Linked DNA regions of Homo sapiens. The protein of the gene in region 1 interacts with the protein of each later gene in a pairwise test. Each region holds a gene or a part of one and is shown on either strand. Other genes may lie near its edges. The genes, in order: ATP23, PLSCR4, CTNNA3 and ABI2.

Region 1 (7,067 bases):
ACTGTATTCCAGGAGAGGTCTGTAGAGTATCTGGCCAGCAATAGCACAGAGGTTTCCCTGTAAGGGGACGGGGAGGCCTAGACGATTCCTGAGGGCCCTTCCACATCTAAGACTCTATGGGCCCGTGACTACTACAGGAAAGTACAAGGAGCCCAAATGCCTCTGATATTAACTTTTCACATAGGCATCTTGTCTGAGAATATAAATGCACAGCCAATTATATGATGTAACCCAAAAAAAGTGAAAAAGAAACTAAGGTTTAAAAAAAATGTTGAAGGCAAAAATAGGTGAGAAAAAGAAATGTGAGATGAGAAAGTCAGGTATAGGTTACTGCTTTACCAACCTGCCCCTTGCAAGAGTGTTCACAGTAGAATAATTATTGTTAACAATACGTATTATTGAGTGAATACCAGGTAGCAGGCACCATATTAAGCACATTATTATTCATGCAACTAGGAGAATTTTACAAAATTAAAACAGTTTCAAAAGTCTGTAGTCCTTGTACTTAAAAAAAAAAAAAACCATGGTTTAGTACTTCAAAAAGGACCTGCAGCAATATTTAGAATAAAATTGCTTTGGTGAAAAAAAAAAAAAAAAAAGAGACTCCCATGAGGTCTGGTTTCCACCACCACGCCCCACCCAGGGATAGCATTTTAAAGCTGCAGGTTGACACTTTAATACCACCAAAAGACCCTCCCAGCCACCCTGCCCTTGGAAGATCAAGGTCCATTGATTCCTACTGGGGCTCATGTTCAGCACCCCACCTTCCTCACATCCTATCTATTTCCACTCTTCCTCCACTGTGTGGCCCTTCCACTGTAAAAACAGCTACCATTTATTCAGCTCAGCTCCTGATATGCTGGTACTTTACATTCATAAAATCAGTACTTTTTTTTTTTTTAGACAGGGTCTCGCTCTGTTGCCCAGGCTGGAGTGCAGTGATGCAATAACAGCTCACTGCAGCCTCAGCCTCCTGGGTTCAAGCAAATCTCCTGCCTCAGCCTCCTAAATAGTTGGGACTGCAGGCATGAGCCACCACATCCAGCTAATTTTTTTTATTTTTTGTAGAGACAGGGTCTCCCTATATTACCCAGGCTGGTCTTAAACATCTGAGCTCAAGCAATCCCCCTGCCTTGGCTCCCCAAAGTGCTGAGATTACAGGCATGAGCCACCGTACCCAGCCCCATAAAATCTATTCTTCACAACAACCCTAAAAAAGGTATTTTCCCCTTCTCTTTTTTTACAATAAGGATAGTGAGGATCAGAGAAGTTAAGTCACCTTCCACACCTGAGGAAAGGGATCCGCATTTGAACCCACATCTAACTCTGCAACCCATACTCTTTCCACTCTATTCCACTTTGAAGCACCTTCAAGGCAGGGTGCTAACTCATCTTTCTACTTCCCCCACCAGAACCTGGGAGGCACTCAATACATATTTGTACAGTAAATACAATATCATCATTCTCTCCCCTTTTACCCTCAACTCCCCTTCCTCCTCCTACCTCCCTGAGTCTCTACAAGCAGGTAATCCCAAGAAGGTTGGAAAATCTTTCGGTGGTTGACTTTTGAACTGTGACTGACTAGCTATGAAATAGTAACCTTGCTTTGGGACAAGTATGTTTAAGACTAATTTTCTGAATGTATCTGAAAGTAAACTTAAGAAGTCTATGTCAATGTAAAGGAATTAAGAAATCTTCTCTAGTGCAATGTCTCTGGGACGGGAGAGAAATTTGTCAATGGGCAGTTGTGTCCCTGTTTAACCCACAGCAGTTCTTAACCTTTGTGGGGTCGTTGGCCTCTTTGAGAATATGATGAAGCTATTAACTCTCTCCCCCGACCAAAAAAAAATACACTTTGGGCCGGGCGCAGTGACTCACGCCTGTAATCCCAGCACTTTGGGAGGCCGAGGCAGGCAGATCACGAGGTCAGGAGATCAAGACCATCCTGGCTAACACGGTGAAAACCCGTCTCTACTAAAAATACAAAAAATTAGCAGGGTGTGGTGGCGAGCGCCTGTAGTCCCAGCTACTCGGGAGGCTGAGGCAGGAGAACGGCGTGAACCCAGTAGGCGGAGCTTGCAGTGAGCAAAGATCGCGCCACTGCACCCCAGCCTGGGCGACAGAGCGAGACTCCGTCTCAAAAAAAAAAAAAAAATGCACTTAGGGGCACACACACACACATACACACGATTTCACAGACCATTTCAGGGATTTCTACGCTCTGAAGCCCATTCATGCATGAACCACTTCCAAGGAACGGTAGGTTTGCAAAACTGCTTTTATATTTTTACAGCCTTGGTATGCCTTAATTACATTTTTACATTTTTACAGCCTTTGTGTGCCTTAATTAACCTGGCTGGCACTTTAAAACTTGGCCTCACCCTTACCCTGAAGTCACAGTGTGGCTGCATAACTTATGTAAGAAATCGGAGGATCTGTCACAACAGTGAGTGACAAAAAAGGGCAGACAAATTCATTCCACAAGCCAAAAACAGCGACGAAAAGGGTCTCAGCGCCACCTCTAGTGGGGAAACTGAGCCTCAGGCTCCCAACCCAGCCCCCATGATGCCCAGTCTGTCTAGACTCTGTGCTGAACCTGAAGCCCCTGGCCAGGTGTTGCCCAGGCCCTTCCTCGCCCACCCGGTCTCAGACCCATTCTGTGGAACCACAGCCTCCAGGTCATGGCTCCTACTTGTCTCCAGCGTCTTCAGGAGCCTAAGCTGGCACTTCTGGTTGCTGGTGAAGAAGCTGGAGAAGAACCCTTGCTGGGGATTCCCCTGGGCCAGACGCTCGGGGAAGACCTGGCAAGAGACGTGTTGCTGCTGCAGCTGCTCCCCTGCCGCGGGGCCCCGCCGGCGCTCGTCCGGAGCTCCCGCCATGCCTCCCGCAGACCTCGCCGCTGCTTCCTCCTGGCTCAGGCGGCCAGAGCGAGACTGGGAAAGGTAACCTCCCTCCCGCCAACGCGACCGCCCAGGCCCTCCCTCCGCAGGGAAGAAGGGCAGCCTGGCTGGGCTGAAGACGTTAGGCGGGAGGGGGCTTTGAACCTGACGGGGAGCGCGGGAGGCGGGGCGAGAGGCGAGGGGCGGGGCGAGAGGCGAGGGGCGGGGCGAGGGATGAGGGGCGGGGCGAGGGCATGGGGCGGGGCGCGGGGCCCGATGCTGTTGGGCGGAGCTGGGTCTTGCGACTTCCCTCAAAGGCTGTAACAACCCGGCTGCCGCGGATTTCGCTGCTGCCCTCCCAGTGTGGGTGACATGTCTTTATAAGCGTTGTTCTGCAGCTTCCTGCTGCCTGCTGAGCTCTAAGGGTGTCCCGCCTCCTCGCAGACACTCCTTCCTCACCTCGGGGCGAATATTGGCCACTAACTGCTCTTGTGCCGCCGAAGGTCTCGGCCATCCTCCCACTCCCTGCCTTCTTCCGGGGCAAGCCAGTTGTCATTTCTGGCCCGCCACTTTCCCGACCCCTGCCATCCCTCAGATCCACTCTGCCCAAAGATGCCTCTGGCCATATTGAAAGCAGTGTTTTTCAGAAACGTTTTAAAACTATAAAGAATGACTAGTCACATCAAAATCCTCAAAATGTAGGAACCAACTACATTTTTTCTTCCCACCTGTACCCATTCGTTTACCCTACTCTTCTGCCCCACCCCCCACCAATAACTCCCTGATAACAAAGCGCACCCTGTTTACTTCTACCTCTCAGCCTTAACTCATACTGTCATTTCCATCTTTAAGCTCCTTGCCTCAGCCCCTATGATTGGGGCCCAGGTCAAATCTGCCTACTCCACAGGGCATTCCCAGATACCTTAATCAAAATTAATGTCTCCTGATCTCCCAATGTACAAAGCACTTTGTACCTGTTAATCATTTTCATCGTAGCCTGCCAGGTTTTATCCAATTTGTGTGTTTCTCTTTTCCTACTAAATTATTCCACTCAGCTCACACATTTATTCAGCACCTACTATGATGGGCCAGGCAAGGTGTAAGAGACTGAGGAAACACATGACTAAGAAAATTGCTAAAGATGAAGAGCAGCATGTGGTTTATGTAAGAAACATATCTGAAAAATATAGGCTCAGCAGGCCTTTAGGGTTATGAACAGTGCTTTATGTGTCATAGATGCTCAATATCTAAATTGAGTGGGATGCTAGGATAGTCATTCATCTGGAATATTATAAAAATACAAACAACTCCTATGTACATAGACTATTAAAGCCAGAAGTCAAAAAAAAAGTAACTACTTTTTAATTAAATTCACCTTGGATACATTATTTCCAATCCTCACTACAACCCTGCAAAGTAAGTATTATCTCTAATTTGCAGATAAAGTGGGCTCAGCAAAATTCAATAATTTATCTAGGACCACACAACTAGCTTTCAATCCAGTTATTGAACTAAAACACACATATGGAAAACTAAGCCATTACAATTCAGTGTGATTAGTTTGGAATACTGAAGGCAGGCTAGATATGCCTAGAAATGGACCATAGCCTATATACATTTGAAATACTATTTGGATTTTTTTCATGCTTTCTTTTTTAATACATAGATTCAGGTGGTTTATGTGTAGGTTTATTATACAGATATATTGTGTAGTGGTGAGGTCTGGGCTTCTAGTGTACCCATCACCCAAACAGTGAACATTGTACCCAATAGTTAATTTTTCAACCCTCACCCTTCCCCTCCCACTCTCCCCACTTTTGGAGTCCCCAGTGTCTATTATTCCCCTCTGTATGTCCACGTGCACTCAGTCTTTAGCTTCCACTTATAAGTGAGAACATGGGGTGTTTGATTTTCTGCTTCTGAGTTATTTCACTTAGGATAATGGCCCCCAGCTCCATCCATGTTGCTGCAAAAGACATGATTTCATTATTTTTATGGCTGCATAGTATTCCGTGGTGTATGCATAACCACATTTTCTTTAACCATCTGTTGGTGGACACTTAGGTTAATGGTTGATTCTATGTCTTTGTCTTTTTGTCATAACAATTTCTTCTTTTTTTTTTCTTTTTCAGAGACAGGTTCTTGCTCTGTCACCCAGGCTGGAGTGCAGTGGCGTAATCATAGCTCACCACAGCCTTGAATTCTTGGGCTTAAGCAATCCTACCACCTCAGTCTCTCGAGTAGCTAGAACTACTGGCATGCACCATCATGTCTGGTTAACTTTTTAATTTTTTGTAGAGATGGAGGTTTTTTGCTATATTGCTCAGGCTGGTCTCAAACTCCTGGCATCAAGTGATCCTCCTGCCTCAGCCTCCCAAAGCTCTAGGATTACAAGCATGAGCCACCACACCCAGTCACAATTTGTTTTCCTTTGGGTAGCCAGTAGTGAGATTGCTGGGTCAAATGGTAGTTCTATTTTTAGTTCTTTGAGAAATCTCCATACTAGTTTCCACAGAGGTTGTACTAATTTACATTCCCACCAACAGTGTATAGGCAATCTCTTTTTTCTGAATTCTCATCAATATCGGGTTGTTTTTTGACTTTTTAATAATAGTCATTCTGACTGGTGCAAGATGGTATCTCACCGTGGTTTTAATCTGCATTTCTCTGATGATTAGTGATGTTGAGAAGTTTATCATGTTTATTAGCCACTTGTATGTCTTCTTTTGAGAAATGTCTATTCCTGTCTTTTGCCCACTTTTGAATAGGGTTATTTAGTTTTTTCTGGTTGAGTTCCTTGTAGATTCTGGATATTAGTCCTTTGTTGGATGCACAGTTTGTAAATATGTTCTTCCATTCTGTAGGTTATTTGATTCTTTATCTTACTATGCAGAAGCTTTTTAGCTTAATGAAACTCATTTGTCTGTTTTTGTTTTTGTTGCATTTGCTTTTGAGGACTTGCTCATAAATTATTTGCCTAGGTCAATCTCCACAAGAGTTTTTCCTAGGTTTTCTTCTAGGGTTTTTATTGTTTCAGGTCTTAAATTTAACTCTAATTCATCTTGAGTTAATTTTGGTATATGGTGAAAGAAAGGGGTGCAGTTTCATTCCTCTGCATGTCTATCCACTTTGTGTAGCACCATTTATTAAATAGAGTGTCTTTTCCCATTATATGTTTTTGTTGTCATTGTCTAAGATCAGTTGGTTGTAGGTATGTGGCTTTATTTCTGGATACTATTTGCAATACCCTTCAGCTACAGGAATAAGTAAAAACGTACAAACCAAAAGCTGCAACATTTCCTTACTAAATTAGCTAAAACTGTTTCAATACTCATTGTTGAAGAAACAGATGGAAAAAAATTCATACCACAGTATCAATGGTTGTCTAGGTATTGGAATTTTTTTGTTACATTCTCCTGAAATTTTCTAATGTTCCTCAATAAGCATGTATTACCTTTATAATCAGAAAAATAAACTTTAAAAAATCAAGTGGGCTTTGGATGCCATGTGTAACTTCATCTGTATACAGTATAAAGACATAGGTATGGAATAAAAACACATTAAGGAAGAGATAATGAACAGCAAATACAAATGAGTTTTAAAAAGAAAAAGAATTACCACAAAGAAATTAGAGCAAGGGCAAAGATTTAGCTATAAGGATTTTCATTTCTCCATTGCAGCACTAATTGAGAGCAAAAATGGCCAGGCCAGTGGCATGTAATCATAGCTATTTGGGAGGCTAAGGCAGGAGGACTGCCTGAGCCCAGAAGTTCAAGACCAGCCTGTGTGATACAGCAAGACACCTCCTCCTCAAAAAAAAGGGGCGGCAGGGGAAGACATCAATTGTTTAAATATCCAACAAGAGGTATAATGGAATATATACAACCATGTTAAGTGTCTTTTTTAAACAAAATATGTTCATTAAAAGTTTTTGGGTGTTTTGTTTTGTTTTTTTGTTTTTTTGTTTTTTGAGCCAGAGTCTTGCTCTGTCGCCCAGGCTGGAGTGCAGTGGCGCCATCCCGGCTCACTGCAACCTCTGCCTCCTGGGTTCAAGCAATTCTCCTGCCTCAGTGAGCTGGGATCGCGCCACTGCACTCCAGCCTGGGCGACAGAGCAAGACAACAGCTCAAAAAAAAAAAAAATTCAGGCTGGGCGCGGGTGGCTCATGCCTGTAATCCCAGCACTTTG
Region 2 (7,039 bases), on another chromosome or scaffold:
GCTAATGAAAATGATGGGTGGTGGTAAAAAGCAATGGGCTAAGGCACTCAGTAATTTACCCACTGTATTGTGTTTTGTTCTCTTTTGTGCTTTTTTTGATGTTAACTGTTTACTTCTAAGCAAATAACACAACTATCCTCTATGATAGTTTTTCTATTTCCATTTGTACAATTCTTTCAAGAAAACATCTTGAATGCCTTGAAGTTCAACATAAATCCTTATGAAAAACATACTCATCCCACTATAAACATCCTTGTACTTGCTGTTTCCCCTTCATATTTCTGAAACTGGTATCACTGTTCTTATAGTTTCACAAATGGCATCTGTCATCACTGACCCATCTCCTTTATTCACTCTGGTCTGCTTTTTTTCTCTCTTTGTTGGATCCCTATGGTCACATTTCATAAGAAAATAATTTGTATTTTCATGGAGTACCTGAACTAAGTATTCCAGACCAGGAGGGCAGTTTGCCATAGGAGTTGGCCCTGGCATCCATGTTATTGGAACAGACTGATTTGGCATAGGATATTTGCCAGGCTGATACCGGACAGGATGGATACCACCAACTGGCTGGTACAAAGGGAAGGTACTGGGTTGCTGTGGACTGTAGTATCCCATAGGCAAGCCTCCTGGGTAGCCAGTAGGTGGAGGGACAGCTGTTCCAGGGGGTCCTGTGTTCAAAAGAAATCAAAGTGTTATATATTATTAACACTAAAGTTAGCATAACTTTTTACATGCGATGAAATAGATCACACGACATCCACTTAAATATAACAACTTGTTCCATTTTTGATTCACACTTTATGCAGATCATGGTTGCATATGACCCAACGATGTATTAGGGAGACTTATTTACATATTAATTCATTTAATCCTCTTAAAGCTTATAAGATAATTATTCCCATTTCAATGGTACAAAAATAAGTTTTGAAACATTAGAAGAAACATGTTAGCTTCTTAATAAATTAGGTTCCTCCTTGGAGATAATAAACTTACCTAATGAGGTTGTAGTGGGATTAATTACTAACGTATTAATTACTAACGTATAATTACTAACATATAATTACTCCTGCAAATTTTTGTTATTATGTCTATTGTTATTGTTTGTGGTTACATAAATAATGTCTACTTCATTTCAAAGGAGTGCTTTTAATGAATATTTTAGGTTGCCTTGACCCAATCGCTTGTACATATCTTCATCATCGAGTTCTCAGACTGGTCCCCAATCCTGACCTCTTTTAGATTCAATTTCTTAAAGTTATTTTCTTAGTAGTTATGCTGCTATAACAAAATAAGCACAAACTGAGTGGCTTAAACAACAAGCATTTCTTTCTTATAGTTCTGGAGGCTGGGAAGTTCAAAGATAAATGTTAGCATGGTCAAACCTGGTGAGAGCCTTTCCTGGTTTGCAGATGTTCACCTTCTTGCTATATGCTCACAGAGTGAAGGGGGAGAGAGAGAGACAGAAAGACAGAATCCCTCTCATGTCTCCTCTTATAGGGTATGAGTGCCATCATGAGGGCTCCACTCTTTTGATTTAATTTTCTCTGAAAGGCCCCACTTCCAAGTAACATCACATTGGGAAATGGGACTTCAATATGTGAATTTGGGAGGGATATAAACATTCAGCCCACAGCACTTATCCCTCTATCATTTCTCCCCATTCCACCTTCAATCAGAGATCTGATGAATTATCTTTGTCATTATAAGTCCATCAAGGAACCTAGATTTCCTTAAATGGATACAAGATTTTATCATGCTTTAAGAGCACAGTCTACATATTCAATGCAATTCCCATCAAAATACTATCACCGTTCTTCACAGAACTAGAAAAAACAATCCTAAAATTCATATGCAACCAAAAAAGAGCCTGCATAGCCAAAGCAAAACTAAGTAAGTGAAAAGAACAAATCTGGAGGCATCACATTACTTGATTTCAAATGATACTATAAGGACATAGTCACCAAAACAAGATGGTACTGGTATAAAAATAGGCACATAGACCAATGGAACAGAATAGGGAACCCAAAAATAAACCCAAATACAGCCAACTGATCTTTGACAAAGCAAACAAAACACAAAGTGGGGAAAGGACACCCTATTCAACAAATGGTACTGGGATAATTGGCTAGCCACATGTATGAGAATGAAACTGGATGCTCATCTCTCACCTTATATAAAAATCAACGCAAGATGGATCAAGCACTTAAATCTAAGACCTGAAACTATAAAAATTCTAGAAGATAATATCAGAAAAACCCTTCTAGATATTGGCTTAGGCAAAGACTTCATGACCAAAAACCCAAAAGCAAATGCAACAAAAGCAATGATAAGTAGGTGGGACTTAATTAAACTAAAGAGCTTTTGCACAGCAAAAACAACAGTCAGCAGAGTAAACAGACAACCCAAACACAATCTATACATCTGACAAAGGACTAATATCCAGAATCTGTAACGAACTCAAACAAATTAGCAAGAAAATACAAACAATCCCATCAAAAAGTGGGATAAGGACATGAATAGACAATTCTCAAAAGAAGATACACAAATGGCCAACAATTGTATGAAAAAATACTCAGCATCACTAATGATCAGGGAAATGTAAATCAAAACCACAATGTAATAACCCCTTATTCCTGCAAGAATGGCCATAATCAAAAACTCAAAAAATAACAGATGTTGACATGTACGGAGAACAGGGAACACTTCTACACTGCTGGTGGGAATGTAAACTAGTATAGCCACTATGGAAAACAGTGTGGAGATTCCTTAAAGAACTAAAAGTAGAACTACCATTTGATCCAGCAATCCCACTACTGGGGTATTTATCCAGGGGAAAAGAAGTCAAAAAAAGATACTTGCATATGCATGTTTATAGCAGCGCAATTCACTGCTATAATACGGAACTAGCCCAAATGCCCATCAATCTACGAGTGGATAAAGAAAAATGTGGGATTACATATATATATGATGGAATACTACTCAGCCATAAAAAGGAATGAATTAATGGCATTCACAGCAACCTGGATGCGATTGGAGACTATTATTCTAAGGAAAGTAATTCAGGAATGGAAAACCAAATATTGTATGTTCTCACACGTAAGTGGGAGCTAAGCTATGAGGATGCAAAGGCATAGAAATGATACAATGGAATGGACTTTGGGGGCTCAGGGGTAATGATGGGAAGGGGGTGAGGGATAAAAGGCTACAAATTGGGTTCAGTGTATACTGCTTGGGTGGTGGGTGCACTAGAATCTCACAAAATATCACCACTAAAGAACTTACTCATATAACCAAATACCACCTGTTCCCCAAAATCCTATGGAAATAAAATATTTTTTAAAAAGAGTACTCATAAAAATGAATAAGCACACAACAGCTAATGTTTGACTTTAGGAATTTTTTTATCAAGGTCTCTTAAGATAAGCAGTGGTAACTTTGCATTTCACTATGTTTTTTTAAAGTCAAAGAATTGCCAACAATAAGTATGAGAATGCCATTACTGCATATCTATCTAGGTCTGGTTACCAGGAATTTTTTGAATAACTTTGATCATTACTAATTTATTTTTGTTTCACTTTCCAAGTTTTTAAGATTAATTAATTAAAATTTATAAATAACTGGGTCTTGGTTGTCTACCCAGAAATATGCAACAGACCCTAACTTATTGCTAAGGTCTTGTAGCTCTAACTGAAATCCTGTGAGTAGTAGAGCCACAAGCAGCCCACAAGTGATGTTGTCTGAACTGTCAGGAAGGCCAGGCTCAGATAAAGAAAGGTTTTTCTCCTTTAAGAGAGAATTTAAGGAATAATGTCCTGTGGTTGAAAACAAAATAAGTTATGTAAGTCAAGATATTTTATGTTAAGATTTCAGTATAGTCGTCCCTTGATATTCATAAAGGATTGGTTCCAGGACTCCCTCAAATACCAAAACCTACAAATGCTTAAGTCCCTTATATAAAATGGTGTAGTATTTACATGTAACCTACTCACAGCCTCCCATATACTTTAAATGATGTCTAGATTACTTACAATAGCTAACACAATGTAAATGCTAATATAAATTGTTTTTGTGTTATTTTTATTGTATAATTTTTATTGTCATTTTTAATTGTGCTTTTAAAATATTTTTAATCCACACTTTTTTGAATCCATGGATGAAGAATTCACAAATATAGGGGTCCAACTGTGGATCTATTTTAGTTTAAATTAAATAAAAACAACTTTTTATGAGCAGGGAATACCAGCTAAGACTTGAACTGTAAAATCTGAAGCCTTAGTGACAAGACATGAAGGCAATTTTTAAAAATGGAACTAGATTTTTCAGATTTTCAAAGGCAGATGTTTAAATTTAGAGAAAAAAATCACCTCAACATATTGTTTCTTAAATTGTGGCTCAATATACCAAGTCCTTCAAGATAATCTGGAGTTCTTAGTAAAATTCCAGATTCTGAGCCTCATTCCAATCTATTGCAACAGGATCTCTATGGCAAAACTTGAGATTAACAAAACATTTTATTTCATTGATCCTTTTTTAAAATGTACAATGTAGTGGTTTTAAGTATATTCTCAAAGTTGTGCAACCATCACTGCTACCTAAACCCAGAATTTTCATCATACCAGAAAGAACACCCATACCCATTAGCAGCAATTTCCATCTCCTCTTCCCCACAGTCCCTGAAAACCACTACTATCTGTGGATTTGCCTAATCTACACTTTTCATGTAAATGAAAACATACAATAGGCCTTTATGTCTGTTTTTTTTTTTACACTTGGCATGTTTTCAAGGTTCATCCATGTTGTAGCACATATAAGTACTTAATTCCATTTTATGGCTGAGTAGTATTCTATTGTGTGGATATATCACATTTTAGGTATTGTTTAATCAGTCAATGGACATTTAGGTTGCTTTCACTCTGGGCTATTATAAATAACACTGCTGTGATCCTCCATGTACAAGTTTTAGTGTGGACATGTTTTCAGTTCTCTAGCTATGAGTGAAATTAGCTGAAATATTTAGTAACTCCATTATTAACTGCCAAACTGTTTTCCAAAGTGGCTTTACAATTTCATGTCCACTTGCAAATATGAGAGTTCTACTTTCTCCACATCCTCCACCAATACTTGTTATTGTCTGTTTTTATTTTAGTCATCTTAGTGGGTATGAAGTTGTATCTTATTGTGATTTTTATTTGCATTTTTCTGATTACTAATGATGTTCAGCATCTTTTCATGTGCTTATTGGCCATTTGTATATCTCCTTTGGAGAACTATCTATTAAATCTTTTGCCTACTTTAAAACTGAATCATTTGTCTTTTTATTGTTGCATTATAAATGTTCTTTATATATTCAAGATAAAAGTCTCTTGCCAGATAGTTTGCAAGTGTTTTCTCTCATTGTGTAGGTTGTCTTTTCTCTTTGATAGTGTCCTTAGATATACAAAACTTTTTAATTGTTATGAAGTCCAATTTATTTTTTGTTGGTTGTTTGTGCTTTAGAGTGTCATATCATATCTAAGAAACTATTGCCTAATCCAAGGACATAAATACTTACATCTATATCTTGTAAAAGTTTTATAGTTTTCACTCTTAGACATAGGTCTTTCAAACACATAGATCTTTGATTCATTTAGAGTTTTTGTGTTTAGGGTGAGACAGTTTCAAATCATTCTTTTGTATGTTGATATTCATTTGTCTCAGATCCTTTGTTGAAAAGAGTATTCTTTCCCTATTGAATTATTTTGACATGCTTGTAAAAAATCAGTTGGCTACAGATGTTTGGGTTTATTTCTTAGACTCTCAATTCTATCTCATTGGTCTATATGTCTATCTTTATGCTAGTACTGTGGTATTGACTTCTGTAGCTTTATAGTAAATTGGAAATTGGGAATTGTGAGTCCTCCAATTTTTTTTCAAGATTGTTTAGGCTATTCTGAATCCTTTACATTTCCATATGTATTTGAGGAATAGCCTGTCAATTTAAAAATTCCACTGTGATAAGAATTGTGTTGAATCTGTAGATCAATTTAAGGAGCATTTCCATTTAACAATATTTACTTTTCAAATCTGTAAAATGCCTTTCCACTTACGTAGTCTTCTTTAATTTCTTTCAACGTTTTATAGTTTTCAATATGAAAGATATTTTACTCCTTTTATTAAAGTTACTTCTGGGTATGTTATTTTTAATGTTATTGTATGTGGAATTATAATTTTAATTTCTTTTTACATTTTTCATTGTTAATATATAGAAATACTTTTGGATTTCTGTATTATGATCTTATATCCTAACACACTGCTGAACTTGTTTATTGTGCTGTTTGTGGGTATATATGGGTTTTTTTGTTTTGTTTTTTTTTGTTTTTTGGGTTTTTTTTTTTTTAGACAGGGTCTCAGTCTGTCACCCAGGCTGAAGTGCAGTAGTATGATCATAGTTCACTGCAGTCTCAAATCCCTGGACTCAATTGATCCTTCTACCCTAGCCTCCAGGTAACTGGGACTACAGGAGTACAGGAGTGTACCACTGCACCCAGCTTAGACTTTTTACATATATAGGCTCATGTCTTCTGCAAATGGAGATGGTTTTGTTTCTTTCTTTCAATCTGGATGAATTTTCTTTCTTTTTCTTGACTAATTGCTCTGGCTAGAACTTCCAGTACAATGCTGAATAGAAGTGGCAAGAAAGATACCCTGTCTCATTCTTGATCTTAGATGAAATGAACGTTTTCAGTCTTTACTCCTAAACATAATGTTTGGTGTGAGTTTTTCATAGGTACTCTTTTATCAGATTGAGGGAGTTCCTCCTATTTCTAGTTTCTTAAGTGTTTTTATCATGGAGGATGTTGTATTTTGTCAAGTGTGATTTCTGTGCTTACTGATGTGGTCATGTGGTGTTTGTACTATATTTTATTAATATAGTACATACATTGATGTGTTTTAATATGATATTTAATGTGATAAACCAATCTTTTATCCATGGGATAAATCCCACTTGGTCATGGTGTTTAATCCTTTTTTATGTTCCTAAATCTGGTTTGCTAGT
Region 3 (7,393 bases), on another chromosome or scaffold:
TCTGTTGGAGTTTGCTAGAGGTCCACTCCAGACCCTGTTTGCTGGATATCAGCAGCGGAGATTGCAAAACAGCGGATTTTCGTGAACCGTGAATGCTGCTGTCTGATCGTTCCTCTGCAAGTTTTGTCTCAGAGGAGTACCTGGCCGTGTGAGGTGTCAGTCTGCCCCTACTGGGGGGTGCCTCCCAGTTAGGCTGCTCGGGGGTCAAGGGGTCAGGGACCCACTTGAGGAGGCAGTCTGCCCATTCTCAGATCTGCAGCTGCGTGCTGGGAGAACCACTGCTCTCTTCAAAGCTGTCAGACAGGTACACTTAAGTCTGCAGAGGTTACTGCTGTCTTTTTGTTTGTCTGTGCCCTGCCCCCAGAGGTGGAGCCTACAGAGGCAGGCAGGCCTCCTTGAGCTGTGGTGGGCTCCACCCATTTCGAGCTTCCTGGCTGCTTTGTTTACCTAAGCAAGCCTGGGCAATGGCGGGCGCCCCTCCCCCAGCCTCGCTGCTGCCTTGCAGTTTGATCTCAGACTGCTGTGCTAGCAATCAGTGAGACTCTGTGGGCATAGGACCCTCCAAAGCATGTGCGGGATATAATCTCCTGGTGCGCTGTCTTTTAAGCCCATCGGAAAAGCGCAGTATTAGGGTGGGAGTGACCCGATTTTCCAGGTGCCGTCTGTCACCCCTTTCTTTGACTAGGAAAGGGAACTCCCCGACCCGTTGTTCTTTCCGAGTGAGGCAGTGGCTTGCCCGACTTCGGCTCGCGAACGGTGCACTGCACCCACTGTCCTGCGCCCACTGTCTGGCACTCCCTAGTGAGATGAACCTGGTACCTCAGATGGAAATGCAGAAATCACCCGTCTTCTGCGTCGCTCATGCTGGGAGCTGTAGACCGGAGCTGTTCCTATTCAGCCATCTTGGCTCCACCTTCTCTTTTCTTAACTGCTTCTTAGTAATCCCTGAGTGAAATGTCTATCCTCAAATACTGGAAATTCCTTAGCGTGTACCTGGGTGGCTTCATTGTCTTTCATTTTGAGCCATAGTCACCAATTATTGGCAACAGGAGAAGTCCCACTCAATATCCTATGTCATTTAAAGATCTCATTTGAAGCCATAGGTTAGGATGTGTTATCCCCTCAGGTGACAGAATGGTTTGGCCACCTGGAGGTTGTTGATAGACTTAAAAATGACCCTTTTGGGAGTGAAGGGGAAATAAATCATCTTAGTGGGTTGTGAAGTGAGAGGTAAAAACATAGGGGTGGTGGACAACTCATTTGGGAAGTATTATGATGAAGGCACAGAGAACTAAGTAGCAACCACAGGGAGTTGTAGGGTAAAAGTATGTTTTGTTTGTTTGAAAATTTTCAGGTAGAAGTCCTGTGGCATATTTTTGCACTGATCATTGGAGAAAGGGTGATAATGCAGTGTGTGAGGTGATCGTGAAGGAGCAGAGTCCTTGAAAAGGTGAGGGAAGAAGGGATCCAGCACACAAGAGAGATTAGCCTTTGGTAAGAGCAAGAGGACTTCTTGCATTTTAATAGGAGGGAGGGTAGAGAAGATGAGGCTCGGTGTTAGTGGGTTTATAGATTTGATGATGGAAAGATGTGAAACATCTTCCAGATGGCTTCTGTTCTTCTTAGTGAGGCAGGAGAGTTGGTTAGCTGCTAATAATAAGGATGGTTGGGAAGGGAGAGTGAGAAACATTTTTTTTTTTTGTATTAATAGTACATAAGACCTTCAAATCAGGGGCAGATTCATTTAGATTCACCTAAAATACCTGACAAGGTGCCAGAAGTATTTATCACATATTTTTGAAAAAAATGGTTTTAATTATCACAAACAGGGATTATTCCTAGCTTTAAATCTCATTTTAGAAAGGTATTATGGCTGTTCAGAAAATTACATATTTTTAAAGCCCGAACCTGAAATTGCCAGTATTTTGAGATATTATGGACAGATGAAATGGACTCATGGTTCATGCAAAAGTGATTTTCATTCTATAAGGGATTTTATTGACAAGAAGAAACTACTCCATTCTGACTAAAGAACATATTGCACCCTGGAGGATTTATTTTCCAAGAGAGGCTACTGACAGGGATAGAATTATCTTCTTTTTGGAGGCCTCCCTTCTCTCCTGTAATCTTCTAGCTGGCGCCTAACACAGGGCTCTGCATCAAGGGGCTTCTCAATACATCCAATTGAATGACTTTGTTTGGGGCCGGTCCTGATGCCCAGAACGAAAAAACTTACTTTTGATTACCTCGGGAGAATTGCTAGTAATGGCCCTGATTTATTCTCTCTCTTTTTTCTCTCTTTTTTTTTTCCCCAGCTCTTCTACCCTCAATGTTTGATTGCTTGCAAGAGGCATGTGAGCCAAAATTTTAAAGTTTGCAAAGTATAAAGAAAGGAAACAAGTAAATAGGGAAGGAGAATAAATACTGAACAAGACTGGGCAAGGTGACAAGAAAGAACTACTGTGAAAATCTGGAAGAGGGCCAGGATGCAAAATGCAGGGGCTGTGTAGTTTACAGGAACTATTTAGCCTCCAGCATGCCTCAGCGATCACACAGAGAAAGGCAGATTTCTCTGCTTTTGTCTCCTACCCTATAGTTAGCTATGGAAATTTGACATAGGTGATATATGTTTTCTGTCAGCAAACTGATACAAATACAGAGGACCATGGGGCCTGTGATCAACAAATCCAACGTGATTTGAATTGCTAGGAGGGGACCTCTTGTGGCTATAGTGGGAAATACTTCAGCTAAATACTACCTTGGAGGCTGCAGATATTTTTATGAAGGAATTAAAAAAAAACCCACTATAAAAGCTCTTTAAAATTACATTTCAGATATTTATAATATTTAATTGTTTTGATAACACCAAATTCTGTAAGAAGGTTTTATCTGTATTGCATCTCTGAAGAGTTCAGTGTAATTTAAAGCTCTTCAGCTTTTATCCATTTAATTCACATATCCTCTGAAAAGCAAATGAAAAGAATAAGAGTTCTCATCTACATTTTGTAGGTGGAAAGGAGAGGTACAGGGCAGGTAAGTAACTTATTGTGGTTTCACAGCAGGACAAGCTAGGCTTATGATAGAATTTGGATATCTCATCTTGGGCTCAATTCAACAGTCCTGGTTTGGAAAACATTCATTATTAAAGCTCTAAAACAAAACCTGCTATTTTGCAAGTGTCAAGTGATTTCTTTATTCAAGAAAAGATGGATTGAGAGACATAAAACTTACTCTTTGTTTCACTGTGAAAAGATGCTATTCCTAGATTCTCCAGGGGGAAAAAGCTGCTTTAAAAAAATCTGGGGAGGATAGCATGTTAGCAACTAAGAATCTTTAGATAAATATATTGTCAATTATGCCCATTTTAAAGGTAGCTACATAAAAATACAGTTGTTTTGAAGGCTATCCTGAAAATCATATAAAATGAACTCCTTTCATAGTTGATTCTCTGACAGTTCCCAGACCCTGCCTTTCCTCTTGGCTCCCTGAAATTTGTGCTAAGAGTATCTGGAGAGCCAATAAATAAATGCTTTCTTTTTATTTTGAATTCAGCCTTTTAAGAACAGGACTGCCAAAACTCAAACAAGTAGTTCATATTTTAGTTAGCACCTCTTGTTTTAGAAGCTATTAGAAGAAAGTCGGAAAAATGGTAATGTCCAAGGAAATGCCACAGAAGTTCGAGTGGGATGTCAAGGAATTGATGAAATGATAAAGATTGTTTCAGTGGATGTGAAGATATTGAGGGAGAAGATATCAAAAAAAAGGGAAAAGGAAATGTGAAAAAGAATAGTCATAGAGAGAAAAAATAAATTTTGGTGGAGAAGACTTTTTTTTTTGGTGGCTTAAATTTAATAATGGGTTAACCTATTGAGTTTTTGGTAAATCTTCAGTTTAGATTCTTTACTGATAATGATGTGGTTCCTCATAAATACTGGAAGGAGAGAGTGTGATGCTTGGTACAAGGGATGAGACAGGTAATATTTCAGAAGAAGAAAAATACGATCTCAGATGTGACACATGGCCTTGATGCCATCATCTCTAGGGTTCTGAAGACATTGAATTTTACATAATTGATCTTTTGATGTGAGGATTTCCTGGACTCTTGTTTTCCCTGCTTTATCATTTTTCACTTTCAATAATTCCAGCCTTTGGCTTTAATTAGATAGAAGAGGTTCTTCTTTTGGAAAGGAACTAGAGAAATGCAAATCTAAACTTATTCAGAGCTATGTTTGTAGGTCTCTAGGCAAAGTATGTGTCTGGCCTTTTTCAACGAAGTATTTTCAGTAACAAGTTGTCAGTGAGGTCAGTGACTAGCGGTTCAGGATTAGATACCACCCACCCTGGCTTGTAACCTCCCCTTTCTTTCTTATCCTGGGTGAACAACGCTCAGCGAAATTGACTGCCCCACTGTCATCTGCCTCTCAATTTGGTACTCTGTAACTCTGTGACCACCAAGAAGCCTTTTTCCGTCCCCCACAAAGCTCTTTTTGGAAAATTCCCTACGGGAGCTGAATTTTAAGCCCATTTACTTTATAGGAAGAAACAGAAAGGTAAGAATCAAGTTTGTAAAGAGAAGAGCTGAACTTCAGCGAATTCTCATTTCTGCATTGAATTCCTGTGTCTTAGTTATAATCATAGGTTTAAAATTTGGGGTTTTCTTCTGAACTGAGGAAGATCACATTATTGTATGAAATAGGAATGTTTTGACTAGTTATGAGAAACGTAGGCTTTCACGCTAATTTTAAAGTTATAAATAACTTTCGAACTATTGCCAGGGGAAGCTGGTAGCCAAGGTCGTGCTTTGCATTCAGAGAGTTTCTGGCTATAAAAAGCCGATTGGATACTGTGCAGGAAAAGATAAGATATGGCCTGGATGCTTGTGCTTTGGCATGGGAGTGGGGAAAAGGAAGCAAAGATGGAATATGTTTGAAGGGATTTTACTTTCAACCAAAAGCTAATTCATAGTAAATGGAAGATGTTTCAAGTGAGATAATGGCAAAAAGCATTAATTTCTGAATTTAATGTCTATTTGTTTTATAATTGGAAGGAATATTAAGAGGTTGAGGAATGCTCTCAGAACTGTTTGATGACCAGTTATAGTCAAATGAAAATCACTGTATGGAATGATCATGAGATGTAATGATCAATCATGTAAAGAAAAGGTCACTATCTAATGGGATCTGAATGATTGTGAGCAGCTGCTGTCAGTTACACGGAAGACAAATAAAAGAAATGAGTTCAAATGGAAACAAGAAGAAATTGGGGTTAGACATCAGAAAGTTCATTTACTGTAGAGGTTTTGAGTCACTGATATGTGCCTACTAAGATCTCTGGAGATAACGTGAGAATGCAATGATTTGCTTAAAACAAAGTGGAAAAAGCAGGATTTCAAGTTTGCATTGGTTCTGGGTTTGTGGCTAGCTTTTTAGACAGATTGAAAGCTCAACATATTGAGAATAGTTGTGATTTGAAGATTCAGATTATCCATGGTCAGATTTGAATGGCATATTTGAGTGTGCTATTAAAATTTCATTGTCCATTATAAAAAATTATCTCAGTAGAACCATAGGACAAGTTTGTTAAATGGAGAAACCTAAAATACAGACAGTATAGACAAAGTTATTCCCATTTGTTACCTCCTACACATAGTCTAAATCTTCCTATTTGAGTAAAGATTGGTAAAACTTTTTTTCATTATAAAAGCATTAAATGTTCATCGTAGGAATTTTGAAAGCACAGAAAAATATTTCCTGTAATTTCATTGATGTGTTTCCTTCTAGTCTTTTTTTTTCTAGATGGCTTTAAAAATAATTGCAATAATAGTATAGATAAAATTTGGAACCTTGCTTTTTCATTTAACCATATACCAAAACATTTTCCACAGAATATTACCTATTCTACAGTGGTGTTATTTTAAATTTGTGTAACATTTGTTCAAGTGAATGAATATAATTTTATTAATCATTGCTGAACATCTAGATGCTATGGTAAACATCTTTGTGTATTTATTTACTTATGTGTATATGTATGTTGTAGATATGTTTAAGATAATTTCCTTAATCTCTGTTTCTAACTGTAGAAGTGTTGGATTAGAGAACACTATGTTTGAAGGTAAAAGTTGTGATATTTAAGATGTGTTTTTACTGTTATTCTTTTAAAGCATTGTAAAATTCCTAGTCTACCAAATGATATATTTATTGTCTATGATGTGCAAAACATTGTTATCAGGCACATAGATACCAAAATACTTAGTGTTTAGAAGGATGGAATCTCTCCTACCTACAAAATTTCCACTCAATAAACTTTTACAGATATCAACAAAGCTACATGTCAGAGTTGAAAATACTTCAGCTCTGCCTGAAACCGATAGATAGTATTGTTGATCACTTACGTTACTTTGCACATGAAAATAACAGAATGTATAAGTAACTTTATTAGAAGACCATGTAGACATAGTGATTTATATGACTTTTATGATACAACTGTGACAAAGAAATAGGAATAGGAAGAATAAATTCTTTACTTATTGTGAATCTTTGGAGAAATTAGAAGTATTTGGAGAAAATCTGTAGGCAACAGACTAGAAAGAAAAGGGATAGAGGGCACATGCTAGAGGAGCAATTCAGTATTGGGTTTTTCTATAGGGAAAACATGAGAATGGAATTAGGCGTGGCTATGGTAGGAGTCAGAGAAGATAAGTTTTAATTCTGTCATTGTTGAGTTTGAGAACCATGTTGTGTAAATAGAGTAGAAGGAAGAAAGCTAAGGAATTAGTGATAAATACAACTAATTATTGGAAGTGGTTACTGGTCCCAAGTAATCAAAGTGGAGAGATTAGAGATATCAATATTATGTGGTGTGAAGTGAGAGGTAGAGTTATGAATTATCAAATAATATATTCTTCCTGTATTAAAAAACTTTTTAAATTGTGAAGTTTTTATTATTCAGTAATAATATTTAGAGAAAAACCATAGCTACAGAAGGATGGGAGTTTCATTCTCTATTCCCCATGAACTTCTGTTTGCATGTTTCTATTTTTTTTGGAATAGAAGGGATTAAGATTTAAGAAGAGAAGTTGGCAACCCAAACTGGCCTGAAGAGAAATTATGCGCTTTGTAATGAAAACTTGAAAATAGTGTTTATTTATGGATCATTGGCTCATGGGAATGCTAGTCTAGAGATTTAAAAAGTGTGATTTTCTGATTCTTGTTTGGATACTGGATTTTAAGTGAGATGGTACAGCGGGGTGGAACTCCGGAGTTTAGCAAAGTTGCAAATCTAATGGAAAGTGACAGATAATTGAGGCTGCAGAATTTTTGAAGGTGAACAGGACTGTTAGCCGATACATCTGATTTTTCACATGCTTAAATACTGTTTTTAACCACATTATTTT
Region 4 (3,315 bases), on another chromosome or scaffold:
AATTAGATGTTCCCATTATTTATTTAAACAGCTTTTTGCTGAGAAAGCTTAGTGGATTAATGAGGCAGAGGGTGTTTTGAAATCCAATAAATAGTTCCCACAGGCTGGGTGTGGTGGCTTATGCCTGTAATCCCAGCACTTTCGGAGGCCGAGGTGGGTGGATCATGAGGTCAATAAATTGAGACCATCCTGGCCAACATGGTGAAACCCCATCTCTACTAAAAACACAAAAATTAGCTGGGCGTGGTGGCGCACACCTGTAGTCCCAGCTACTTGGGAGGCTGAGGCAGGAGAATCACTGGAACCTGGGAGGCAGAGGTTGCAGTGAGCCGAGATTGTGCCACTGCACTCCAGCCTGGTGACAGAGCGAGACTCCATCAAAAAAAAAAAAAAAAAGTTCCCACAGCTCACCACTACAGAAGCAGGGAAGACAACTATGCAGAAAACAGAGTTAGTGGCGGTCAGCAGGAATGCAGCTGGTCTTTTGGACCCCTACGGGATGGGGGCAGTGCAGAAGACACTGGTGAAGTCCTTTATACTGAAGACCTGTGGTTGGGAGCAGGGGTAGTCCATGGGTCTGCTGATTTTTTTTCCCTATTTAGTACTAATGTGTGTGTGATCTTTGTTTTACAAACAGTACCTTTTGGGTTTTCTGCATATTTTATAATTTTTGTACAGTTTTGAATTCTATAGATTGTCTTGGAAGGATACTGTGTGATGGGTCAGGCACACAGTAATTGGAGACTTTTAATGTATGTAATATTTCATAGATTGCATGCTATTAATCATCTGTGAGGGTAGTATTTTTTGTTTTATTGTAAGTTTCCCTCTTTTTTTATAAATTAAAAGATGGTTGGTATTAGGAATTTCAAATGAATGCAGAAAATCTTACATGCTGTGTACTATTAATATTATAACAGACGATCCAAGTCCAAAATCTGACCAATAAAGCAACCATTTTATCAAGATAGAGGGATTCTAATGGGAGAGGGGATTCTTCCCTCCTGAAGTTTGTGTGTCCAGTCCCCTTAAAAAAAATGAATAGTTGTCTTTTCTTGTCATATTAATACTCGAAAGTCCATGGTGGTATTAATGAAAGTACACTTTATTGTTGCCTTTGAACTTACGGCCAAGGCAATAAATCAGAAACAAAAATAGTGCCAATGTGTCAAAATCGACATCTGAGAGATTCAGCCTCCCATTTGGAATAAATATGAATCTTCTAAGCTATCTTGTTTAATATTTTCCATCATTTAGCTACTTCCTATCTCCCTCAGAGGCGCCTGCTGTTCCCATTTTAGAGTTGACAGTGGCCTGCTAATTTTGCTATGTTCCTAAAAGTTACTGGGTGTGAGACATTTTCATCCCCTCCTTTTTCCTACTGCTGGTGTTTATTATCCAGCTAGACAATATTTTATGCATATTTACCGTGATGTCTGGACCGTACCTGTGCTCCTTGGCAGTTTATGTTGAAGATAACTAAAGATTTTTCTCTTTGGGAGGCATCAAAATGATGGTAGTTTGCTTTTATCTTTTTATGTTCATTTTCTTTTAGTAGGTGACCTTTCTGCATTAAGAACTGTTTTTATCTTTTACTACCTTTTCTTTTCTCCTTTGTGGAGACAGCATGACATGTCCTGAAGGTCACCTTTGCCTTTGAAAAAGGTTTGATGGAGGAATTCACAGGTGACTGACAAGTCTTTGAAAAGAATGGGATCTGCTCACTTCTGGTCTTTTTGGCCGGGAACTCCTGATTGGTGTTAAGGTGGTAATTTCCCCCATATAAGATTTAGAATCACTGAGTTTGAGCTAGATGAAATTTTTAAAATTTCTGGTTGTCTCATTAGACTGATGAGGTGAGTTTTCTTCTTCATATGAACAGCTAGTTAATAACAGCAGAGTTCTCACTCAGTGCTCAGTACTTAATTTTCCACTGCACCACAACTGTCTTAACTAAATGTGCTGTATTTTTCTTTAAAAGTTAAGAGTTCTATTTGGTGTTTTCAGGAATATACGTGAAAAGACATGCCATGTTTTGGTAAATACCATCAGAGTTGTGTAAAGGCGTGTACTAAGTGCAATCTTAATTTGTGGAAATAATCTTCATTTACCCCTCCTAAAACTACACTCAGTATAAACACTTTCCCATAAGGTGTGTGCAGTAAAAATGTTATATTACTCCAACACTGGCAGGAGCACAGCACAGCAGCCTTATTGGAGAGAGCCTTATAAAAGTGATTAAATGGAGGCATTGAGCTCATTACCTTTAAGTTTACTTTGTGCTGACCTTTGTTCCTGTTTTGAGAATCTCATATAATTATTAAAAAAAAAAAACAATTAAAACGAAACGGCGGGGCCTAGCTGTGTATAAATGATCCTTGCTGAATATCTTAAGGTTTTTTGTAAGAAAAAAGAAAAACCAACAAAAAAAGCTTATTTTCACATTAAAATGAAACCTCTTTTGCAACTTAAGAATTCTATGGAAAAGCAGTTTTTATCATATTTTGTGTCCATGCACCATTTTTCTTAAAATGGCTTACAAAAAAGAATGTAAACAATTTGTGATCTGGCCAGTTGTACTTTTAGCTCCCAGAGGGAGAGTTGGTGGTATTATGAGTTGAGTAAAAACCATCCAGGGGAACTTGAGGGAGCAGTCTGTTGCCAGTAATGTTCCTTGTGTGCCATTAAACCACCTCCAGATGAGTGGAGGAACATCACTTTTTAATTTTTTAATTGTATTTGGAATTGTTGCCGTGTACTAAGAACTTGACCTAAATAAAATCCCACAAAGTATATTCAGGTGTCTTGTTAACTTATTTATATAAATAACCTCTTTTTCTAAGGTGGTATCTTGAGTTTACGTGTTAGGGATAATCTGACTTTTCTGTTGCTCTAAACCAGGGAGCTGCCTTTTATTACTGAAGAAGTCGTCTTTTTAAATTTTCAAAGATTTAAAATGTTGAGCTTTAAATTTGATCTCAAGTTTCTTCCCTGAAGACAGCTGTTCTAATTAAGAACTTTCTAATCCTGTTTTTGCTCCACTCGCACCTGGGGTTTTCTTACCACTTTTCTCCAAATCTAATTCTGTTAATGTACAGTTTTTTTAATTCAACAGACAAACACTGAAGATGGGTGTTGACTAAAAAATATTGCAGACTGGTCAGAAGTGAATCTAAAAGACAAACCACTAACTAGCCTGTGCTTTGTTGCTATGAGAGCCTAGATTATAAAAGAATTTTCTAATGATGTATCTGAGGGTAGCAAGTAAGTTTGTCTTCACAATACCCAAAATGATGTTTCAGCTTTTCTCACTTT

What was found.
Region 2: the proteins of ATP23 (region 1) and PLSCR4 interact in binary tests that used the Homo sapiens proteins (3 or more experiments, as listed by UniProt).
Region 3: the proteins of ATP23 (region 1) and CTNNA3 interact in binary tests that used the Homo sapiens proteins (3 or more experiments, as listed by UniProt).
Region 4: the proteins of ATP23 (region 1) and ABI2 interact in binary tests that used the Homo sapiens proteins (3 or more experiments, as listed by UniProt).

Annotation. Positions count from the first base shown.
Region 1 is NC_000012.12:57,937,514-57,944,580, reverse strand, and holds the start of ATP23 (mitochondrial inner membrane protease ATP23 homolog), read right to left. Parts: upstream 3,015-7,067; 5' UTR 2,880-3,014; coding exon 2,693-2,879; exon of another isoform or gene 2,684-2,692; coding exon of another isoform or gene 2,653-2,683; intron 1-2,652.
Region 2 is NC_000003.12:146,206,091-146,213,129, forward strand, and holds part of PLSCR4 (phospholipid scramblase 4), read right to left. Parts: intron 672-7,039; coding exon 436-671; intron 1-435. UniProt on the Homo sapiens protein: Catalyzes metal ion-induced ATP-independent rapid bidirectional and non-specific movement of phospholipids (lipid scrambling or lipid flip-flop) between the inner and outer leaflet of the plasma membrane and participates in the redistribution of phospholipids between membrane leaflets.
Region 3 is NC_000010.11:67,693,157-67,700,549, reverse strand, and holds the start of CTNNA3 (catenin alpha-3), read left to right. Parts: upstream 1-4,354; 5' UTR 4,355-4,550; intron 4,551-7,393. UniProt on the Homo sapiens protein: May be involved in formation of stretch-resistant cell-cell adhesion complexes.
Region 4 is NC_000002.12:203,429,375-203,432,689, forward strand, and holds the end of ABI2 (abl interactor 2), read left to right. Parts: 3' UTR 1-1,626; coding exon of another isoform or gene 1,627-1,631; 3' UTR 1,632-2,795; downstream 2,796-3,315. UniProt on the Homo sapiens protein: Regulator of actin cytoskeleton dynamics underlying cell motility and adhesion. Functions as a component of the WAVE complex, which activates actin nucleating machinery Arp2/3 to drive lamellipodia formation.